Homo sapiens: one gene and its partners. The protein of the gene in region 6 purifies or fractionates together with the protein of the main gene of each other region. This does not show direct contact. Each region holds a gene or a part of one and is shown on either strand. Other genes may lie near its edges.

Region 1 (3,254 bases), on a different chromosome or scaffold from region 6:
TTTTAATCATTTAAAAATCATGTTTATTGAGGTACAACTTACTTATAGTAAAACCTGCCCTTTTCAGCGTATAGCACTGAGTCTTGACAAATGCACAGTTACGTACCACCACCAACCAAGGCCTGGCACATTTTCACCTCCTCAAAGTTCTCCCTGGCTGCTTCTCCCACTCCTTGGCAACCGCTAACCTGTTTTCTGTCCTTATAGTTCTGCTTTTTTCAGTGTCATATAAGTAGAATCACACTGTACATAGTATTTTGAGTCTGACCTCTGTCAACTGGCATAATGCATTTGAGAATTATCCATGTTGCTGTACTGGCAGTGCATTCTTTTTTATTGCTGAGCAGTATTCAATTGCATGGCTGTACCAGTTTGTTTATTCATTTGCCAGTTGAAGGATAACTGAGATCTTCCTCGTTTTTAGCAATTTTAAAGAAAGTTTCTACGAATAATTGTGTACAGGTTTTTAATTAAATGTTTTGGAGATATAATTCATATACCACATAATTCACCTTTTTAAAGTGCATAATTCACTGGTTTTTAATATATTCACAAGGTTTGTGCATAGGTTTTTGTGTGAATACTGGTTTTCATTCCTCTTGGATAAAGATTTAATTTGGTATTACCCTTCCAGACACCATTCTGTGTTTTCATACGTATATATGTATGACAGTTTGACCTTAGGCAGAGTAGCATTTTCAAACTTTTACATGGGGAAATTTTCTAGAGTTAAAGCCATTTTATTTTTCTGTTCTGTCTGGTTTTATCTGCGTGTTATTTACAATCTGCTGCGTAACAAATTACTACAAACTTAGTACCTTAACACATATTTATTTCACAGTTTCTGTGGGTCAGGAGATCAGAAATGGTTCTATTTCAAGGTCTCTCACAGGGCTGCAATCAAGATGTTGGCATGGCTGGGGTCTCATCTGAAGGCTGGACTGGAGAAGAATCTACTTCCAAACTTATGTGGTAGTTGGAAGAATTTAGTTCCTCAAGGCTGCTAAACTGATGGCCTGTGTTCCTTGCCTCTGGGATGGTAGCTTGCTTCAACAAAGTGTGCAAGCAGAGAAGACAGAGAGAGTCCGCTAGCAAGATAGAAGCCACAATCTCTTGTAATCTATCATTTTTGCTGTATTCTACTGGTTAAAAATAACTCATTAGGTTAGCCTACTGGCTCTCAAGGGGAAGAGATTATACAAAGGCATGAATTTCTGGAGGAGGCAATGAGGGCAAAGAACTCTGAAAAGTCTCTCTTCCACAATCTGAAGAACTTCTAGAAAGTAGAAGGAAGCGATATTGCTTAGGGATGGACAACTTGGCACTGGTTATGTGTTCCAAGTGAGGTAACCTTGTTCCCAGGAATAAAGAGAACCAGATGACTATAAACATTTCCCTAAACTGAAATGCACTGTTGTATGTTCACCTGCAATGAATGGTGTAAGCTGAATATAAGATTTTTGACAAAATAAAAATTTTGCTGTGTTCTCAGATCTGGCAGGCTCCTGCCCTTGTGCAAACAATGTTCCTGGCAACTATTCATCTCCTTAGGTAAATAAGAATTGGAGAAAAGCTGTGCTTAGATAGGGTGCATTTGCTCTTGCCTTGGAAGGCTGTTTTCTGATAAGGTTCTATATCCTCTGCAAATCAAATCAGGCACTTACAGTGTGAGTATGCATTCTCTTCCTGCCAGTCTGGAGATGATCAAAAAGCCTATAACAGGCTTGGCCTATTTTCCTATTGGGTTGCTGGGCTTTTTTTCTTTATTTACTTGTAGAGAGTTTTAGACCTCTGTGTATGTATGGTGTACAAGTGACAATATTCAGATCTGTAAACTGTAACCCAGTCTGGGAGCAAAGAAGATATAGAAAAATGACTTTTACTTCCGGCTTGAGTAGTAAAATTGAGATTCAAATTTTGCATATAGAAGTACTATATGGCTAACTTATTTGGGGAGCAAAGCTGACTTACCATAAGTCTATCTCAAATAGAAATGAAACACTCAATTTGTGAAATATGCTGAGTTTTAATGCGTGTGGGGGCAGGGTGAATTAACATTTGTGATGCAAGGAGAAGAGCAATCTATACTTACCACTGTCTATTTGACATTGTTTGGGGACTACTGCTACACTCTAAGTCATTTTACCTTATAACGCAGAGTTGTAACACGCTACTCTGAGCAGCTCATGACATCTGCTTGAAATTTAAGTTGGGCCCCTAGTATGTGTTTATTATAAAGATTTTGATGCTGCTTTTCAGAGTTGGGTAACCTACTTTACCCCCTAAGCTAATGTTTCCCAAATACACCCAAACCCACAGAAAGGAAAACTATTCCTCATTAACTCACAGCCAACATCATAAACATTTTATATCTAGAGCTGATGATACAGTCAGGTATTTACCAACACTCATGTATATATGTAGAGTGTCAAGAAATAATTGCTTATCCTTAGTAGATTCAACATTAGCCTTACTAGATTCAACATATTCTAATGTTTCACATATTATTTTTATTTCTTAATTTTTTTTTAAAGATGGGGTTTTACTCTGTTGCCCAGGCTGAAATGCAGTGGCGTGACCAGGATTTCGACCAGAAGTTTGACTGCAGCCTCGAACCCCTTATAACAAAGAATCCTGCTGCCTTAGCCTCCCGAGTAGCTAGGACTATGGGCACATGCCACCAGAACGGGCATATTTTAAAATTTTTGTAGACATAGGGTCTCGCCATGTTGCCCAGGCTGATTCTGAACTCCTGTTCTCAAGCAATCCTCCTGCCTGGTCTTCTCAAACTGTTGGGCTTACAGGTGTGAGTCACTGAGCCCAGCTTGTATTCTTTTGATTTTAAAAAAATATTCTGAATGTGATCCACCAAATTAATTTCACCATCCACTAATAGGTAGCAACCTGAATGAAAAATACTATTATAAACTTTACACAAAACCAGAGATTATAAACATTTGCTTCCAAGGACATGAGAGAGGTAAAAGGTACTTGTTTGCTCTGATGGGCCCTGTTTCCTTCAGTGCCAGGAAGAGTGGCTCTCAGACCTTTCTTCTAGCATCCCTCATGTATGCAGTGTTGGTTATTATTTTCAAGGCCTTGGTAACAAAATGCCCCTAGTGTGACCAGTCAGACTGACAGTCCATATCTGTAATATGGTGGTAAGTTTCCTTTGCATGTCTTTCTTTCTGGCATCTTAGACCTTTTACCTAGGAAATTTTCTTTTTGCTTGAAGTACATCATTAAGAATTTTC
Region 2 (3,500 bases), on a different chromosome or scaffold from region 6:
ACAAGCATGCGGTAATTTCTCCCAACCTACATCCTCATCTAGCACTTATTTTTCTAGTCCCATTTAAGGCAAAATTCTTCAAGAGAGTTACCTGTATCTCTACTATCAACACTTTTATTTATTTATTTATTTGAGGCAGAGTCTCGCACTGTCGCCTTGGCTGGAATGCAGCGGCGTGATCTCGGCTCAATGCATCCTCGGCCTCCCGGGTTCAAGCGATTCTACTGCCTCAGCCTCCCGAGTAGCTGGGATTACAGGCGCCCACCACCATGCCCAGCTAATTTTTTGCATTTTTAGTAGAGACGGAGTTTCACCATTTTGGCCAGGGTGGTCTCGAACTCCTGACCTCATGATTCACCCACCTCGGCCTCCCAAAGTGCTGGGAGTACAGGTGTGAGCCACCACGCCTGGCCTTTTTTGAGACAGAGTCTCACTCTGTCGCCCAGGTTGGAGTGCAGTGGCGCAATCTTGGCTCACTGCAACCTCCACCTCCTGAGTTCAAGCAATTCTGCCTCAGCCTCCCTAGTAGCTAGGATTACAGGCATGCGCCACTGCGCCTGGCTAATTTTTGTATTTTGAGTAGAGATGGGGTTTCACCATGTTGGACAGGCTGGTCTTGAACTCCTGACCTCAGGTGATCCACCCACCTTGGCATCCCAAAGTGCTGGAATTACAGGTGTGAGCCACCAAGCCCAGCCTATTTCCAACACTCTTTACATTCCCTCTCTTTTCAAAATTATGAAAAACTTCTAATATACACACAATTATAATGAACCCCATATACCTATTACCAAGATTCAATAATTATGAACATTTTGCTGCAGTTGTTTAAAACAAATTATGCTTAGAAGATTTCATCTCTAAATACTTTAGTATATACTTCTAAAAAATAAAGACATTTCTGGAAGGGTGCGATAGCTCACGCCTGTACTCCTAGCACTTTGGGAGACTGAGGTGGGCGGTTCATCTGAGGTTGGGAGTTTGAGACCAGCCTGACCAACATGGAGAAACCCTGTCTCTACTAAAAATACAAAATTAGCCAGGCGTGGTGGTGCATGCCTGTAATCCCAGCTACTCAGGAAGGCTGAGGCAGGAGAATCACTTGAACCCGGGAGGCAGAGGTTGCGGTGAGCCGAGATCGTGCCATTGCACTCCAGCCTGGGCAAGAAGAGCAAAACTCCGTCTCAAAAAATAAAAATAAAATAAAATAAAGACATTTCCTTTCATAGCCACGATATCATCATCACACTTAACAAAATCAGCAGTAATTCCTTGTTATCTATTACAGGGTCCAGATTTAAACGTCTCTATTTGTTTCAAAGAGGTCTTTTAAACCATCTGTTTACTTAAATCAAGAACCAAGTAAGAGCAACACGTTTTATTTGAATGTCTTTTTAAATCTCTTCATCTAAAACAGATCCTCCTCCCCACTCTTCTTTTCATGCCATTGTCTTACTGACAAAAGGTAGTCAGTTTTCCTATTGAATGTCTTTGCAAGCTGTATTTGTTTATTTACTCATTCCTCCAGGCTCCATGTTTTCTACAGACTACAAATTATATCTAAGGGTTTGATTATACTCATCCATTCCAATCTTTCACTCCCTGAACCTCACTCCACCAAAACTATTCAAGATCACCAGTGACCTCCACAGTGGTGAAGTCCAAATTCTCACCTCTATTATACTTGATCTAACAAGCAGTACTGACTAACATAGTTAATCAGTCTCTCCTCGATATGCACTTTTCTACTCGGTTTCTAGGATAGCACGTTCTTCTGGTTATCCTCTTACATTACTTTGCATTGTTCCTTGGTTCTTTACTAGTTTTCCCTTGTCTTTTTTTTGAGACGGAGTCTCACTTTGTTGCCCAGGCTGGAGTGCAGTGGTGTGATTGGCTCACTGCAACCTCCACCTCCTGGGTTCAGGTGATTCTCCTGCCTCAGCCGCCCAAGTAGCTGGGACTACAGGCACGCGCCACACCCAGCTGATTTTTGTATTTTTAGTAGAGATGGGGTTTCACCATGTTGGCCAGAATGGTCTTGATCTCTTGACCTCGTGATCCACTCACCTTAGCCTGGGGTACTGGGATTATAGGTATGAGCCACCGCATCTGGCCCCTTGTCTTTTAATACTTTAGTATCAACTAAGTTATTGCAGTAGTCTACTTACTGCTCTCCCTGATGTCATACATACCACCCTATAATCTATTCTCAACACAGCAGCCAAAGTGATCCTTTTTTTTTTTTTTTTTTGAGATGGAGTCTCGCTCTGTTGCCCAGGCTGGAGTACAATAGCGTGATCTCAGCTAACTGCAACGTCCACCTCCTGGGTTCAAGCGATTCTCCTGCCTCGGCCTCCTGAGTAGGTGGGATTACAGGTGTGTGTCACCACACCCAGCTAATTTTTTTATTTTTAGTAGAGATGGGGTTTCACCATGTTGGTCAGGCTGGTTTCGAACTCTTGACCTCGCCATCCACCCGCCTTGGCCTCCCAAAGTGCTGGGATTACAGGCATGAGCCACTGTGCCCGACCTGATCCTTTTCTTTTTTTTTTTTTTAGGAGACAGGATCTCCATGTGTGGCCGAGGCCAGAGTGCAGTGACTTTTCACAGGCACCATTGTAGCACACTGAAGCTTCAAACTCCTGAGCTCAAGATTTCCTGCCTCAGCCTCTGGAGTAGCTAGGGCTACAGGCCTGACTCCAAAGCGATCCTTTTAAAACATGAATCAGATTACATAAACACCCATTAATGGCCTCTCATTTCAGAGTAAAAGCCAATGTCCTTATAATGATGGTCCTTAGGATTCTATGTAATCTATCTCCCTTGCTCATTCTTTTCTACCCAGTTACCTACTTGCATTCACTAAAACATATCAGGCACACTCCTACCTCTAAGCCTTTGCAAACGGGAAATAAAGGATATTTTAATAGCATACTGAGATAGTTAGACTTTAATTTGAAAGATTTTTGGTTAAGAAATGGAGCATTTGAGAGGACAAGATGAGAAAGGAACCACCCTTTCTCAGATAAAAAATGTTTGGTTCTTTCTGCCATTCCCTATTTATCCTAGCATTATTTCAATGCCATCTAGCTCCTAACGCCTGCTATATGAACACAACAAATAGGAGTAGGGTGACTCCTGACTAAACACAAGTCATTTCTCAGTTTGCTTTCTCTTTTCTGTAGCATCCTTTGCCTTCTAAGATGCTCTATTTTCATCTTTTTCTGAGATTATTCCTTTCTTCTTTAGTTGGTTCTTTCCATCCTAATGGTCCCAATCCTTCTGGGCAAACTGCAAGGATGAATTCTTTGCTCTTTTCTTACTAATGTTTCCATTGACAAAGTACTCTCATTTCATGGATTCTTTAATTATTCTATTTTTACATTTCTTATCAATTTATCTTGTCAACACTTATCCTACCCAAGCTCCGTAAGAACTTTAGGATTTCTATGAAGCAATATAGATAATAAAGTGTTATAATACTCCACAGGTAAAGGCTT
Region 3 (3,500 bases), on a different chromosome or scaffold from region 6:
CAGTTGTGGTAGCACACGTCTGTAATCCCAGCTACTTAGGAGGCTGCGGCAGGAACTGCTTGAACCCGGGAGGTGGAGGTTGTAGTGAGTGCAGATCGTGCTACTGCACTCCAGCATGGGCGACAGAGCAAGACTTGGTCTTTAAAAAAAAAAAAAGAAAATCATACATGTAGATACTGTATATTAAAGATGTCAGCCTATGACTAATCTTGAACGCTGTCACATGTGTTTCAGCCTTCACATAGACAGGTGACCCGGGGTGAAGCCGTGAAGCTAAGAGAAAGAGAAAAGGAGAAAGGACGGGGAGAAGATGGCAGGGGGAGGGAGACAGACAGAGAAAAAGCACACACACACAAGCATAGAGTATAAAGGTGAGAACAAGCCGGCACGGTAGCTCACGCCTATAATCCTAGCACTTTGGGAGGCCGAGGTCAAGAGATTGAGACCACCCTGGCCAACACGGTGAAACCCTGTCTCTACTAAAAATACAAAATTAGCTAGGTGCGGTGGCATGCGCCTGTAATCCCAGCTACTCCGGAGGCTGAGGCAGGATAATCGCTTGAACCCAGGAGGCGGAGGTTGCAGTGAGCCAAGATCGTGCCACTGCATTCCAGCCTGGCGACAGAGCGAGACTCCATCTCAAAAAATAAATAAATAAATAAATAAATAAATAAATAAATAAATAAAGATAAGAATAAAAATACAGGTGAGAACAAAGATGGGGCCAGAAGGTGTGGGTTTGCTTCTCCATTTGGATTTGGTGAATACTTAGTAAACAATTTCTATGGGTGCCTTTTTAAAAAAAATCCATCCAAAGGGGCTGAAGATTACTGAGGTGTTACAGGCCAAGTTCTTCAGAAATAAAGGCACCAGAAAAAAACACACACAAATCAGGTGCCAGGTGAAACGAAAAAGGGATGCTTCCAAGCTGCTATGCTTCTAATTATTAACCACATATTCTTCTAGAGCAGCTACTTTCAGTACTGACTCAGACACCTCACATCCAGCGAGACCGGTCCACCTTAGATGTGGCTTGGTGGAAAAGGACCACTGGTCTCTCAGTTTCCTCATCTGTGAAAAAATAAGAACCAGAAAGATGACCCTGTGCACTTCCTGAAAGGGCTGCTGTGAGGACTGGAGGGGAAGACTGCTATGGAAACTCGCAGGTAGGCACTTGCAGCTTCTCCACTGTTTGTCCACAATCTGTTGAACCGGTTGGTTTCTGGTGGCTTCTAAGCACCTGTAATTTAAATGAACACTCCCTCCATTCCATCATCATCCACAGCCACTGATGAAACTTTTCTTTTTTTTTTTTTGAGACAGAGTCTCACTCTGTTGCCCAGGCTGGAGTGCAGTGGCGCGATCTCGACTTACGGCAAGCTCTGCCTCTGGGGTTCACGCCATTCTCCTGCCTCAGCCACCCGAGTAGCTGGGACTACAGGTGCCCGCCACCACGCCCAGCTAATTTTTTTGTATTTTTAGGAGAGACGGGGTTTCACCATGTTAGCCAGCATGGTCTTGATCTCCTGACCTCGTGATCCGCCTGACTTGCCCTTTGAAAGTTCTGGGATTACAGATGTGAGCCACCGTGCCTGGCCAAAACTCTTCTTTTTTAAAAGACAGGGTCCTGCTCTGTCACCCAGGCTGGAATACAGTGCCTCAATCACAGTTCACTGTAGCCTTGACCTCCCAGGCTCAAGCGATCCTTCTGCTTCAGTCTCCCAAGTAGCTGAGACTACAGGTACATGCTACTACGCATGAACCCTCTCACCTGTGTTTCAGCCTTCGGATAGACAGGTGACCTGGGCTGAAGCCGTGAAGCTAAGAGAAAGAGAAAAGGAGAAAGGGCGGGGAGAAGATGGCAGGGGGAGGGAGACAGACAGAGAAAAAGCACACACACACACACAAACACACACACAAGCATAGAGTATAAAGGTGAGAACAAGCCGGCATGGTAGCTTTAAATTTTTTATTTTTAAATTTTTTGTAGAGATGGGTCTTGCCATGTTACCCAGGCTGGCCTTGAACTCTTAGGCTTGAGTGATGCTTCTGCCTCTGCCTCTTGAAGTGTTGGGATTACGGGTGTGAGCCATCACGCCTGGCCCCGATGAAACTTTTAAACCGTGAGCTCTGTCTCTACTCTGATGGGGGGGTCACCACTAATCAGACCTGTCAGAGAGGGACCCTCGTGCACTTGACACATAATCTTTGGTTGTAGTCACCAAGTGAAGCTGGCAGGGTTTTGCTGAAATTATATCCCCTTCGTATTTCCATGAAAATACAAAAATTACGTGGGCAGTTTTGTCTTGGCCATCTCGCTCAGGGAGCCGAATCCGTATAAAGAAGTCCTCCTCTCACCAGGACACCTGATTAGGAAGGTCTGGCCCTCTCCTAACAGTGGGATGTCAACACAATTTGTTAGATATTTTGGCAGAGATGTGGAGAGAGAAAAATCAGGTTTCTAAAAGATTGTAATCACTGATTATCTTGTCATAAGGAGCCGTTCTTTCTGCTCTTTAATAAAAGACCTTGCAAATATTAAAAAAGTATAACTACACTTTTTTTTGCCTAAGTAGTGTGTCAATTTTGAAACTGAACATCTTTGACCAAATCCTGTATTTCTCAGGAACGGAGGACACTCCACTGGGTCAGACCCTATCCACCTGGGCCAGGGTCCAGTAACCAATGGTGCCCCCACCCAGGATGTGCCTGGACCACATGCCCCCTCCCTGATGTCAAGTGTTAAAGGCGAGGTGCAGTCCAGCTTCTACAGGAGCCACTTATGGCTTTGTCTTCACAAGTTAGTTCTCATCCCTAAAAAATCCCCTTGCAATACCTGTTTACACCACCTCTTAAACGCCCCTTTTATGCAGTGCTCCTCACCCTGGTCCTAACACAGTCATACCACAATCCACTTGCAGTGCCCATCGCCAAACTCCTCTAGGCCATTCGCTGTTTCCTACCTCCTGATCCCGTGATTCCTTCAGTCTTTGCTTTTCCACATTGAAGAGTCCTGCTCTTTTGTCTGACTCAGTTCCCTTTTCTGGATCTTGGCCAATTCTAAGAGATCCCTTTGAAAGCATGATCTGAAGTCCATAGAGTATTCCTGATGAGGCGCATACAGTTTTACATAAAGGTGGAATGATGCATGGTTTTGTACTCAAAGCCTTTTTGGTAAAAAGAGCAAACCTGGCTGACATCCTTTAGGAACTTCCAACTCTCATATTCCTTTCTTTTCAAACAAACACACACACACACACTCTCTCTCTCTCCCATAGGGAGAGTCTCCATCTCTCTCAGTTTTCCATACTTAAAGGCATCCTGGACCAATGTGTGCTAATACCTGCTGTATGGCAAGCCACACTCTACACAAGAGATACTACTTTTCCTTCCTAACTATGAGGTAGGGGGTATCATCCCCTTATGTAGAGGACACAGAGGCTCAGAAAGGTGAAATAGCTTGCCCAAATCAGGGAGCAAGGTGGAACCGGTACCTGAAT
Region 4 (3,500 bases), on a different chromosome or scaffold from region 6:
TAGTGGCTAAAGATAAACATTAGATAAAACATAGGTCTTCATTGAGCAGACCTGAAATAGCAGAGCAATGAAGTACATTACAAATCAGCATCCCACTACATTTTAAAAAACAAACCAACAAGGGTGTCATGCCACCAGTCAAAAGGTACTTTGCTTAAACTGGCATTCTTTAACATGCATGTTGTAGTGGTAAGTACTTCATTTCATACAGCCACAGTAATTAATACTTTGCTAAGGGCTACCCAGCTGCTAAAAACTGCTGTTATCTCATACTGAGAATGCTAGTTCTATACCTTTGCTCTCAGGCTGTGAGGAAGGGGTGCTAGTCCAAAAGGCCATGGGATTAGATTTAAAAAGGCTAAAATTAAATCCTAGAAAATAAAGAATATTTCATTTTTTAACATTTTAGGAAACAAAATGAATATGCTTTTAAAACATAAAAAGCCAGAATCCCTCAATTTATACCACCAATCTGACTGTCTTACATATTCATTTATCCCTGTAGTTTCATTCTTTGCTCATTTAATACATGAGCAAGACTGACATACAACACATAAAATGAGAACATCTCAATATCATGTTTTTTTTTGTTTTTTGTTTTTTGTTTTTTTTGGAGACAAAGTCTCACTCAGTCACTCAGTCAGGCTGGAGTGCAGTGGCATGATTTCAGCTCACTGCTACCTCCATCTCCTGTGCTCAAGCGATCCTCCTGCCTCAACCTCCTGAGTAGCTGCTAATTATAGGCACGCACCACCATGCCCGGCTCATTTTTGTATTTTCAGTAGAAACAGGGTTTCACCATGTTGGCCAGGCTGGTCTCGAACTCCTGAGCTCAAGTGATCTGCCCACCTCAACCTCCCAAAGTGCTGGCATTCTAGGAGTGAGCCACCGTGCCCAGCCTCAATATCATGTTTTCTGAGTGACAAAAGAAACAGAACAAATGAAAATGAACACTTTAAAAAAAGACTCACGTTAATGCGCATGATTCAAGCATGAGTCCGTACACTGTACCAAGTTCTTTTGCTCTGCCCTAGCATGATAGAAGTATCTTCCAGTTACTGAAATGTCTTTAACTAAGTTCTCTTGCTCTTTGAAACCTCACCGTGAACTTATTAAGGGAGAAAAAAAATTGCTCAAATATTTTGGGGGTGTTCACAAAGCATCGTTTATATCCCAACATTAGTATCCCACAAAGAGTCTGCATCAAGCTAAACATTAAAAGAAAGAAAAATTGTGCTTAACTTTAACAACAAAGTACCTACCCTTTTCTGGTGTTTTAAATGTGTAGTTGATTGAAGATTCTTCCGTTGGAAAGGAAGCAGAGAGATTTTTGACTTTGCTATCTGAAGACTGTTCGATATCAGAGTTCTTTGACAGTTCACATTTTTTAGGTTCCACTTTGCTTTCAGATCCACTCTGGGCTACTGAACTAGTTTCACTATTGTTACTTTTCAAAGGTGCATTAAAACTAAATCCAAACAAAGACCCAGTGGCAGAACTGTTGCCAAATACAAATGGTTTTGATTTTTCACTACTAAAAATTCTTTTAACAGACTCTGAAACAAATACAAACTTTGGAGGAGAAACCACTGCTTTTGTTGTTGTTTCAGATGTGCTAGACACTTCAACTTCTGAAGCTGCATCTGCTACATCATCACCCTGAATAACATCTGTCCTCTCTCTTGTGGTTTCTTCTAATATAGCTACAGCAATTTTGCCACATGGTGACTCTCTGGGAGTGCTTGACCGAGAAACATGAGGTGTTATCAAAGAATCTTTTTCCTGGGCTGTTTTTGCTTCATCAAAAATTTTCTTAAACGAGTCTGCAACATCCTGTAGTTTAAAACGAACAGCTAAATGCTCTACTTTTCTTTCTCCATCTGCAAAATCACATGCAGTCCACACCCATACTCTTTCTGTCCCTTTCATATTTTGCAAACTCATGTCTGGAGTTATTCTGTGATTGGCACAAAGTTTTAATACTTGGTCCCTTCTCATCACTATACGAACTTGCTTATTATCATAATTCTGTAAAATCTTTATATCACCAATGCCCCTTTCTTTCCATTGACCAACATCTTTATCATATCTGTAGATTTCTGCCCTGTGACTAAAAACAACTTGTTCATTTTCCTCACCACTGGATACTTCAACTAGATCAGGTAAAGGAACAACAGGTTCAAAGTACTGTCCATCTCTCTCTTCTTCTTGAGTAACAACAGATTCTTCATCAGTGCCAACTGAAGTCCCACTCTGATTCAACTTGGCAGGAGACTTAGATAGACTCAAAGCAGATTTAAAACTGAAGTTAGATCCTGTTGTTGACTCATCAAAGCGGAAAAGATTTTTTCTCACAGGGCTACTTGCCAATGGAGAAGCATGTACTGAGCTACTACTGACACTATCATCCAAAGCATCTTCCCTTAAGTCATAGTTATCCCATTCTAATGTGGGCCCAGTGTTTTCAGCATTGGGTTTTATTGTTGTGTCTGAGGCACCGGCCGCACCTGTACCTGAACCCTTATTTTCTTCCTCAGTGACTTTTGTTTGATCATTTGTCAAAAATGTTTTGAAATCTTTCAGTCCACTCTTCATTTCTTCAGCTCTCTGTATTAACTTGGCAGCTCTGCCAGTATCTACAAGTTTATGGGGAGTTTGAAGTGGTATGTCTAACAGAAGCCGCTGGCATTCCTCAAATTTCTGCTTGAATTCTTCAGCCAGCTCTGGTGTTTTAAATTTTGCTGCCAACCGCTCTAGTTTGGCATCACCGTCAGAGAAATCACTGGCTGACCACATCCATGCTCTATCTGATCCAGAGAGGGGCTTCAGGTTCATTGTAGTCGTTATCCAATGATTAGCACACACTTTTAGTACTTGTTCTCTTCGCATCAGCATTCTTAGTTTGCCATTGACCTCGTTTTTGAGAATTTTTAAGTTCCCCAAGCCCCTTTCTTTCCACTGCCTTACCTCAGCATCAAATCTAAATAGTTTTACCCCCTGTGAATACAGAACTTTTTCACCTTCTTCTCCTGTTACAAGTTCTACTTTTTCAGGCATTTGAACTACTGGTTCAAAATGGATGTCATCGCTGTCCTCAGTCTTATAGGCATCATCATCTTTCTCAAAGTCACCGGAAGTGTTTGCTTTATTGGCCATTTTACCGTATCGTGATGAGAATAATTTTTCTCCAGCACCTGAAAATCCCTTGAAATTGAGGTCTTTTTTGCCAAACTGAAATCCTTCTCCTGAAGTTGATTTTGCAACATCTGCAAATGTAAAAGTGCTACTTGTTTGGCCAAAAATCACACCACGGCCCTTCTTCCGGCCACTAATATCCTGAGCCTGGAAGCCAGTATCATTTTCAAGAGGCTTTTCCCTTTTCTTTTCTTGATTTCCTGGTTCCGAAATGCCAAATTTAAATCCATCAGCAGACACAGGGATGGAAAATCCTTCTTTGGTTGACTTAAATTCTGTATTAGAAGAACCCTGAAACATAAATG
Region 5 (2,150 bases), on a different chromosome or scaffold from region 6:
CTTTGGCAGTGTAAGTCTCCTCTGCCCACCAGTTTCCATTCCCAGCAATCCCCTTTGGTAATCCACCAAACTTTGAGGCCCCTCCAGTCTCTGCCCTGGAAGTTTCAGGGGAGAGGTGAAGTTGGAGCAGTAAGAACAGTAATTAATTTCCCTTTTTAAGCTTTAAGCCTATTAACCATGTCCCATAATCGTCCCTGAGTGGGGAAACTGGGGGCAGGATCAGGCACTTAATCTCCACTTAGAGCTTAGCTCGGACTTTTCACACAGAGACCAAGTTCAGATGTTTTGATTAGTTCAAATTTTTATTTTTTTAGAGACACAGTCTCACCCTATCACCTGGAGGAATGCCGCCTATGGCTGGAGTGCAGTGGCACAATCGTAGCTCACTGCAGCCTTAACCTCTGGGCTCAAGCCATCCTCCTGCCTCAGTCCCCTGAGGAGGTGGGACTGCAGGTGCACACCACTATGCCCAGCTAATTTTTGTATTTTTTTTTTTAAGAGATGAGGTCTTGCTATGTTGCCCAGGCTGGGTCTCTAACTCTGGGGCTCAAGTGATCCTCCCACCTCAGCCTCCCAAAGTCTGGGATTATAGGCGTGAGCCACTGTACCCAGCCCCATATTCAGATTTTTATCACTGGTTGCTGATCTTGGATTTGCATTGGAGTTTTCTGGAGAATTTTTTTGAATGGCAATGTCCAGGTTCCACTCCCAGAGATTCTGAATTAACTTATCTGAGGGACAGCTCAGATCTTAGATGGGGCGTAGTAGTAACTCCATAATTTGTGTTATAAAGTGCTTTTGCGTCCTCTCGTTTGCTCCTTATCCCATCCTAGCAGTAGGTGTTGGTATCCCCATTTTTGAGGCCAGAAAACTGAGACTTAGAGATGTTTCATGACTTGTTTAGCTAGATGGTTAGTGGCAGAGCCCTGCTTGGAACTCAAGTCTTCCACCCCATGGTCCAGAATTCCCTCTTTCCCTGCCCCACAGTGTCCAGGAAGCGGGGCTACCACAGCCTTTGGTGGGAAGAACGTCACAGATTTTGGGGGGAAGGCAAGGGGAACCATAGACAAAGGTAGATAAGGCAACTAATGTTTCATGATCAGGAGGAAAGATGCAAGAGGAAGAGGGAAAAAAACTGATCCAAGGCAAGGCGCGGTGGCTCACGCCTGTGATCCCAGCATTTTGGGAAGCTGAGGCAGGTGGGTCACTTGAGGCCAGAAGTTCGAGACCAGCCTGGCCAACATGGCAAGACCCTATCTCTACAAAATATTTTAAAAATGAGGTGGGCGTGATAGCATGCACCTGTAGTCCCAGCTACTCAGGAAGCTGAGGCAGGAGGATCACTTGAGCCCAGGAGTTTGAGGCTGCAGTGAGCTGTGATCATGCCACTGCACTGCAGCCTGGACGACAGAGCAAGAGACCCTGTCTCTAACAAAATAACGAAACAAAAAAACTGAAAAAGCTGACCAATGACTAAGGCTTGGAGGTTGGGGGCAGAACCCAAGGTGGGAGGCACGGTCTTGAAAAGGAAGTGGCTCCAGTTGCCCCTCCATGCTCAACTTAGCCTCTCCCCGCCCTCCCAGGTGTGCGAGCTGGACATCATCTTCAACTTTGAGAAGGCCTACTTCATCCTGGATGAGTTTTTGATGGGGGGGGATGTCCAGGACACCTCCAAGAAGAGTGTGCTGAAAGCCATCGAGCAGGCTGACCTACTGCAAGAGGTACGGGCCAGGGACAGTGAGGAGGAGGAGGAAGCGCACAGTGGCGGACAGGGTCCTCCCTCCCCTGGACACCCGGCCTGCCCTGCCCACCGTCGCCAAGGAGCCCCCCCTCCCTGTGGTATCTGACCCCCACCACGCCCAGCTCTCCAGCTTACTCTCAAGCCCTGACCCCATGGGGTGGGAGGTAGGGTGGCAGATAGCCCACCTGTGCACCCCTCATTCCAAGCTCTGTCCTTCTCCCAAGCCCCCAGATGTCTCGTGGCCACCCAGTCTCCTTTGTCCAATTCTCTGAGCAAGGCTTAACACCAAAGGGTTAAGGGTTTGCTCTGGAGTTAAGGGTTGCTTGGAGAATTGGAGAAGGGGCACCTGGTAGGTCATTCTTTTCTTCCCTGATTTCTTCCCCCACCTCTCTTTTTTTTTTCTTTTTTT
Region 6 (3,500 bases):
GGCTGCAACCTCAGCCTCCCAAGTAGCTGGGATTACAAACATAAGCCACCACGCCCAGCCCTCATACCTCTTTTAAAAGTCGACCTGTTTTGCAGAAAGTCTGCTGTTTTTGTACTAAAGGCTTTGGAATTTGGCATTTAGCTAGGAATGCACATTCTTTCACCTCATTCATACTTTAAGAACCACAGAAGTGACTCTGCTTGGCCAGAAGGCACACTGTGTTGGTGGTTATATTAAAAGTCCTTGAGTATTTTGCTTTTCATGATCTTGCTCACTGCAACTTCCGCCTCCCAGGTTCAGGCGATTCTCCTGCCTCAGCCTCCCAAGTAGCTGCGACTACAGGCGTGTAGCACCACACCTGGCTAATTTTTGTATTTTTAGTAGAGATGAGGTTTCACCATATTGGCCAGGCTGTTCTCAACTCCTGACCTCGTGATCCGCCCACCTCAGCCTCCTAAAGTGCTGGGATTACAGCTGTGAGCCACCCTGCCCGGCCACTTTTGTATGATTTCTAATGTATTTGTAATTTACCTAACAAATTGCCTAATCTGCTATGTTAATGTATTTATGAATTAAAATAAATACGACTGCATGTTTGTGGTTCATTTTTGTGGAGGTGGCTGTGGTGACATCAGCCAAGAATCTGAATGGTACTGTTGAAGGAAACTAGCATGATAGCTTCAGTTCTAAAGGCCCTGAAACCTAGTCTCAGGTGGGTCCCCCTTGGGTTCACTTTATATTGGCAGTTTATTGGGAAAATGGATATTAGGTCCTGACCAATAGGACCGTAAGTCTGGGTTGAGTGCAAGATGAGTTAGACCGATTCTTTAGCTTCCTGCAGTGTAGTGGAGGAAAAATCGATGGTAGCAACGGGAGGTTGTATCCCTAGCTGATGAGTTGTATGAGCCTCTACTACCTGGCGCACCTCCGCCTGAAGATTGCCAGAATTGCTTGCCTCATGACGTGAGTCACAATGGAAACTTTGTCAAGCCCCCTGCACTGGCTGCCAACATAAATGTTCAGTACCCTGAAGGATGGGACTGAAGGGGGATCATCTAGAAGGTAAAGTTACCTACTGGCATAGGGGAGGTGGGACAGCCGTTAAGCCATTTGGAACTTGATGGAGACAGGTTTGAGGGAGGTGGGTGAGATTGGAGTTTGGTGGACTGTAGAGCTTGCTTGCCAAGGTGTTGAGGTCAGGGTTGGTTTGAGAATGGAAGCTAGTTACTAGCTATGATTGTGGGGGAACACAGCTTGATTTTTCTTACAAGCTAAGAGGAGTGAGGCAGTGTTTAAGAGGGCATGTTAAATGCAGCCAGGCTTGGTGGCTCACACCCGTAATCCCAGCACTTAGGCTAAGGCAGGCGGATCACAACATCTAGAGATCCTGGCCAACGCGGTGAAACCCTGTCTGTACTAAAAATACAAAATAACTGGGCATGGTGGTGTGCACCTGTGGGAGGCTGAGGCAGAATTGCTGGAACCCGGGAGATGGAGGTTGTACTGAGCTGAGACCTTGCCACTGCGCTCCAGCCTGGTGACAGAGTTAAGTCTCAAAAAAAAGGCATCTTCCTAAAGCAATTGTATTTGTGCTTACCTGTGCCAGGCACTGTTCTAGGTAAGCACTAAGTGGGCTTTAATACAGCATATTCCAATGGGGAATCCCAGGAACCAAAAGACTAATTGTCCAAGTCCACAACTAGAAGTGGCACCTCTGCAGAAACAAGCATCAAATTCCCTGCTCAGGAAGAAGCCAGATGAGTCAGCCCCATTCGTCTGTATGCCCAGTCCCATCCGTGTCCTGCTGTAACTACATAGATCTCACCTGAGTAAAGTGATTTTTTTCTGAACCAGTGGTTTTAGTATGTTTTCAATCCATATACTCAGGTGGGTTTGGGTAACTGCAGTGCTGGGCAGGAAATGAATGAATTTCTATTGACTTGCAAGGTAGAGGTGAAGCAAAGCTGTCAGTAGGTGTTCAGGTCCCACTCTGCTAAACTTCAGCTTGCAATACCCCTTTTTTAGACTTTCCAAACAGGCACTTCTGGCCTTGTTCTTTGTGTAGGCAGACAGTATTGGTTGCCTATCTTAGGAGTACTAGACTGGGTTTGAATCCTGATCCCACCACTTGCTGTTCATGAGACTTTGGGTGAGTTACTCAGCCCCTCTGCCTCAATTTCATGTTCACAAAATAAGTGATAAACTACCTCATAGAGTTGTAATAAGGACAAAGGAGTTGGTATTTGTGAAAAGATTCTTAGGGTCTCTAGATGGAGTGCAGCAGCATGATCACTTATTAAATAACATTCTTTTGTGACTTCTCAGAAACCAAGGATACAGTATCCAATTTTTTGTTTTTTGTTTTTTTTTTTTTTTGAGAGGGAGTCTCGCTCTGTCGCCCAGGCTGGAGTGCAGTGGCACAATCTCAGCTCACTGCAAGCTCAGCCTCCCCAGCAGCTGGGACTACAGGTGCACGCCGCCACACCCGGCTAATTTTTTTGTATTTTTAGTAGAGAAGGGGTTTCACCATGTTAGCCAGGAAGGTCTCCATCTCCTGACCTCGTGATCCGCCCACCTCGGCCTCCCAAAGTGCTGGGTTTACAGGCGTCAGCCACCATGCCCAGCTTTTTTTTTTTTGAGATCTAATCTCACTCTGTCTCCAGGAGGGAGTGCAATGGAGCCATCTTGGCTTGCTGCAACCTCCACCTCCCGGGTTCCAGCAATTCTCCCACCTCAGCCTCCCAAGTAGCTGGGATTACAGGCGCACGCCACCATGCCCGGCTAATTTTTTTTGCATTTTTTAGTAGAGACGGGTTTCACCATGTTAGCCAGGCTGGTCTCGAACTCCTGACCTCAAGTGATCCACCTGCCTCAGCATCCCAAAGTGTTGGGATTACAGGCGTAAGCCACTGCGCCTAGCCTCAAGCCTGATCCTTTTTTTTTTTTTTTTTTTTGAGATGGAGTCTTTGCCTCCCAGGCTGGAGTGCAGTGGCGTGATCTCAGCTCACTGCTACCTCTGCTTCCTGGGTTCAAGCGATTCTCCTGCCTCAACCTCCCAAGTAGCTGGGATTACAAGCGCCTGCACCGCACCCGGCTAATTTTTGTGTTTTTTTTTTCAGTAGAGACAGGGTTTCGCCATGTTGGCCAGGCTGGTCTCAAAACTCCTGACCTCAGGTGATCCACCACGCCCGGCAGAGCCTTGATCTCTTAACCACTATCCTCACCTCCCCTTTCCCTAAGGATCCACAATGGCCTCACTGGCTCTTGAAGGCAGGCTGGCACCTTGATCATTCTTCCTGGTCATTAGTATTCTGATCTGGTTATTTTCCATTTTATGTCCATCTAACCTACTTGGAGGATCCTCAAGAGACTGCATATGTAAACTCAGTACTTATTCTTGTACTGTGCCTGCCATATAGCAAGCACTGGCTGATTTAATTTTTCTGTGTTCTTTTTTATTGATTTGTTTTTATCTTTATTATTTTCTTTGCTTATTTTGG
Region 7 (3,500 bases), on a different chromosome or scaffold from region 6:
TACAGGCGCCCGCCACCACGCCCGGCTAATTTTTTGTATTTTTAGTAGAGATGGGGTTTCAATGCGTTAGCCAGGATGGTCTCGATCTGACCTCGTGATCTGCCCCCCTCGGCCTCCCAAAGTGCTGGGATTACAGGCGTGAGCCACCGTGCCTGGCCCATGATACCACTTTTTTTTTTTTTGAGACGGCGCCTGGCTCTGTCACGCAGGCTAGAGTGCAGTGGCGCGATCTCGGCTCACTGCAAGCTCTGCCTCCTGGGTTCACGCCATTCTCCTGCCTCAGCCTCCCGAGTAGCTGGAACTACAGGCGCCCGCCACCATGCCCAGCTAATTTTTTGTATTTTTAGTAGAGACGGGGTTTCACCGTGTTAGCCAGGATGGTTTCGATCTCCTGACCTCGTGTTCCGCCCACCTCGGCCTCCCAAAGTGCTGGGATTACAGGCGTGAGCCACCGCACACGGCCATAATACCACTTCTAACCTCCTCTTAAAACACCACTATTACTGAGCCCCTATCCCTCAGAGGTGCTGCTTTTGAAATTAAAATAATTATAAAGCTGGATAATTATGTACTTACTTTGTCTGGAGATGGGGTTGTTTGTAAGTTTTCTTGTAGAAGTTAATTCTGTTGACATGTTGATTTAGATAATTATTTTCTTTAGATTGCCCCCATGGTTTTAGCTTTCCTAGTTTAGGACAGAGACAAAGAATTTTAAAAAGATTGTTTGATTTATATTCCCAACTTCATTCTCTTCATCTGTGGGGTTACCTGCTATCAACATTTATACTTTTTTTTTCTTTGAGACAGAATCTCACTCTGTCGCTCAGTTTGGAGTGCAGTGGTGTGATCTGATCTCAGCTCACAGCAACCTCCGCCTCCTGGGCTCAAGTGATCCTCCCAATTTAGACTCATGAGTAGCTGGGACTACATGCACATGCCACCATGCCCGGGTAATTTTTGTATTTTTTAGTAGAGACGGGGTTTCATCATGTTGCCCATGCTGGTCTTGAGCTCCTGTTCTCAAGCAATCTGCCTGCCTTGGCCTCCCAAAGTGCTGGGATTACAGGCATGAGCCACTGTGTCCAACCAATTTGCAATTTTACAAAAAGAACTGGGACCAAATTTCTTGAAGTTTATGTGTTGCTTTTTTTTTTAATTTAAATTTAATTATTATTATTTTTTAAATTTTTTAGACAGAGTCTCGTTCTGTCGCCCAGGCTGGAGTGCAGTGGTGTGGTCTCGGCTCACTGCAAGCTTCACCTCCTGGGTTCACACCATTCTCCCACCTCAGCCTCCCGAGTAGTTGAGACTACAGGCGCCCGCCACCATGCCCAGCTAATTTTGTTTTTGTATTTTTGGTAGAGACGGGGTTTCAATGTGTTAGCCAGGATGGTCTCGATCTCCTGAACTCATGATCCGCCTGCCTTGGCCTCCCAAAGTGCTGGGATTACAGGCGTGAGCCACCGCGCCCAGCCTGTTTTTGAGGCGTGGTCTCACTATGTCACCCAGGCTGGAGTGTAGTGGTGCAATCTCGGCTCACTGCAACCTCTGCCTCCTAGGTTCAAGCGATTGTCCTGCCTCAGCCTCCCAAGTAGCTGGGATTACAGGCGCCGCCACCACGCCAGGCTAATTTTCTTATTTTTTTTCAGAAGAGACGGGGTTTCACCATGTTGGCCAGGCTGATCTCGAACTCCTGACCTCAAGTGATCTGCCCACCTCAGCCTCCCAAAAGTGCTGGGATTACAGGCCAGAGCCACTGCGCCCGGCCGCAGAATTTGTTTATTCTTAAGTTTTTATTTTTTATTTTTATTTTTTAGATGGAGTTTCACTCTTGTTGCCCAGGCTGGAGTGCAGTGGCACGGTCTCGGCTCACTGCAACCTCCACCTAACAGGTTCAAGTGATTCTCCTGTCTCAGCATCCTAAGTATCTGGGATTACAGGTGCCTGCCACCACGCCTGGCTAATTTTTGTATGTTTAGTAGGTGTGAGCCACTGCGTCCCACCAATCTTAAGTATTTTACAGGCCCTGTAGCTCAAAACACTCCCACATACCTTTGTGTGGTTCATAGTTGAGGGGACGAGACAAACTTGCTTTAAGATCAAACACTGGTTTCTTATTGGAGACTGGAGTCTGCGTTGCCTCAGTTGTCAACTTGAATGGGGTAATAACTAAAAACACACCGAAAAAACCCAAGAGCTTAATTAGAAACAAAGACCTGGTAAAGTGTTTATCAAAGTGTTACTTCTCAATCTTAAAAATACACGTTATAGGCTGGGCATGGTGGCCCACACCTGTAATCCCAGCACTTTGGGAGGCCGAGGTGGGCGGATCACGAGGTCAGGAGATCAAGACCATCCTGACCAACATGGTGAAACCCTGTCTCCACAAAAATACAAAAAATTATCTAGAGGTGTGGTGGCTCACACCTGTAATCTCAGCACTTTGAGAGGCCGAGTCGGGTGGATCACCTGAGGTCAGGAGTTCAAGACCAGCCTGACCAACACGGAGAAACCCCATCTCTACTAAAAATACAAAATTAGCCAGGGTGGTGGCACATGCCTGTAATCCCAGCTACTCGGGAGGCTGAGGCAGGAGAATTGCTTGAACCCGGAAGGCGGAGGTTGTGGTGAGCTGAGATTGCGCCATTGCACTCCAGCTTGGGCAACAAGAGCGAAACTTGGTTTAAAAAAAAAAAAAAAAAAAAATTAGCTGGGCGTGGTGGTGCATGCCTGTAGTCCCATGCCGAGTAGGCTGAGGCAGGGGAATTGCTTAAATCCGGGAAGCAGAGGTTGCAGTGAGCCAACATCGTGCCACTGCACTCCAGCCTGGTGACAGAGCAAGACTCCATCTCAGAGAGGGAAAAAAAAAAAATTAGCTAGGTGTGGTGGCACGTGCCTGTAATCCCAGCTACTCGGGAGGCTGAGGTAGGAGAATCACTTGAACCCGGGAGGTGGAGCTTGCAGTGAGCCAAGATTGCGCCATTGCACTCCAGCCTGGGCAACAGGGTGGGACTCCATCTCAAAAAAACAAAAGAAACAAACAAAGAAAAAAAAGAAGCTGGGTGCAGTGGCTCACGACTGTAATCCCAGCACTTTGGGAGGCCGAGGCAGGTGGATCATGAGGTCAAGAGAGCGAGACCATCCTGGCCAACATAGTGAAACTCCGTGTCTACTAAAATACAAAAATTAGCTAGGCGTGGCAGCGTGTGCCCAAAATCCCAGCTACTCAGGAAGCTGAGGCAGGAGAATCCCTTGAACCAGGGAGTCGGAGGTTGCAGCGAGCCGAGATTGCACCACAGCACTCCAGCCTGGCGACAGTGAGACTGTGTCTCAAAAAAAGAAAAAAGTTATAGCTTGAATGTTTGTATCTCCTGCGATCCCAAATTCATATTGAAATCCTAACTGTCAATATGACTGGTGTAAGGAAGTAGGGCCTTTGGGAGGTAAATAGGTCATGAATGGGATTCAGGGCCTTATATAGGGACCCCATAGAATTTTCT

What was found.
Region 1: the proteins of RCC1 (region 6) and RGPD3 purify together in Homo sapiens (affinity purification with mass spectrometry; 3 studies listed by BioGRID and IntAct, with this or other methods). This does not show direct contact.
Region 2: the proteins of RCC1 (region 6) and DLGAP5 purify together in Homo sapiens (affinity purification with mass spectrometry; 2 studies listed by BioGRID and IntAct, with this or other methods). This does not show direct contact.
Region 3: the proteins of RCC1 (region 6) and GLYR1 fractionate together in Homo sapiens (co-fractionation; one large-scale study listed by BioGRID). This does not show direct contact.
Region 4: the proteins of RCC1 (region 6) and RGPD5 purify together in Homo sapiens (affinity purification with mass spectrometry, with the first as the bait; 3 studies listed by BioGRID). This does not show direct contact.
Region 5: the proteins of RCC1 (region 6) and AP1S1 fractionate together in Homo sapiens (co-fractionation; one large-scale study listed by BioGRID). This does not show direct contact.
Region 7: the proteins of RCC1 (region 6) and NUSAP1 purify together in Homo sapiens (affinity purification with mass spectrometry; 3 studies listed by BioGRID and IntAct, with this or other methods). This does not show direct contact.

Annotation. Positions count from the first base shown.
Region 1 is NC_000002.12:106,406,160-106,409,413, forward strand, and holds part of RGPD3 (ranBP2-like and GRIP domain-containing protein 3), read right to left. Parts: intron 1-3,254.
Region 2 is NC_000014.9:55,185,086-55,188,585, forward strand, and holds part of DLGAP5 (disks large-associated protein 5), read right to left. Parts: intron 1-3,500. UniProt on the Homo sapiens protein: Potential cell cycle regulator that may play a role in carcinogenesis of cancer cells. Mitotic phosphoprotein regulated by the ubiquitin-proteasome pathway.
Region 3 is NC_000016.10:4,837,289-4,840,788, forward strand, and holds part of GLYR1 (cytokine-like nuclear factor N-PAC), read right to left. Parts: exon of another isoform or gene 2,964-3,500; intron 2,392-2,963; exon of another isoform or gene 1,955-2,391; intron 1-1,954. UniProt on the Homo sapiens protein: Cytokine-like nuclear factor with chromatin gene reader activity involved in chromatin modification and regulation of gene expression. Acts as a nucleosome-destabilizing factor that is recruited to genes during transcriptional activation.
Region 4 is NC_000002.12:109,835,805-109,839,304, reverse strand, and holds part of RGPD5 (RANBP2-like and GRIP domain-containing protein 5/6), read right to left. Parts: intron 3,487-3,500; coding exon 1,263-3,486; intron 372-1,262; coding exon of another isoform or gene 268-371; exon of another isoform or gene 1-267.
Region 5 is NC_000007.14:101,157,476-101,159,625, forward strand, and holds part of AP1S1 (AP-1 complex subunit sigma-1A), read left to right. Parts: coding exon 1-10; intron 11-1,583; coding exon 1,584-1,721; intron 1,722-1,997; exon of another isoform or gene 1,998-2,080; intron 2,081-2,150. UniProt on the Homo sapiens protein: Subunit of clathrin-associated adaptor protein complex 1 that plays a role in protein sorting in the late-Golgi/trans-Golgi network (TGN) and/or endosomes.
Region 6 is NC_000001.11:28,509,043-28,512,542, forward strand, and holds part of RCC1 (regulator of chromosome condensation), read left to right. Parts: exon of another isoform or gene 1-1,850; intron 1,851-3,500. UniProt on the Homo sapiens protein: Guanine-nucleotide releasing factor that promotes the exchange of Ran-bound GDP by GTP, and thereby plays an important role in RAN-mediated functions in nuclear import and mitosis.
Region 7 is NC_000015.10:41,374,381-41,377,880, reverse strand, and holds part of NUSAP1 (nucleolar and spindle-associated protein 1), read right to left. Parts: intron 2,170-3,500; coding exon 2,053-2,169; intron 686-2,052; coding exon 577-685; intron 1-576. UniProt on the Homo sapiens protein: Microtubule-associated protein with the capacity to bundle and stabilize microtubules. May associate with chromosomes and promote the organization of mitotic spindle microtubules around them.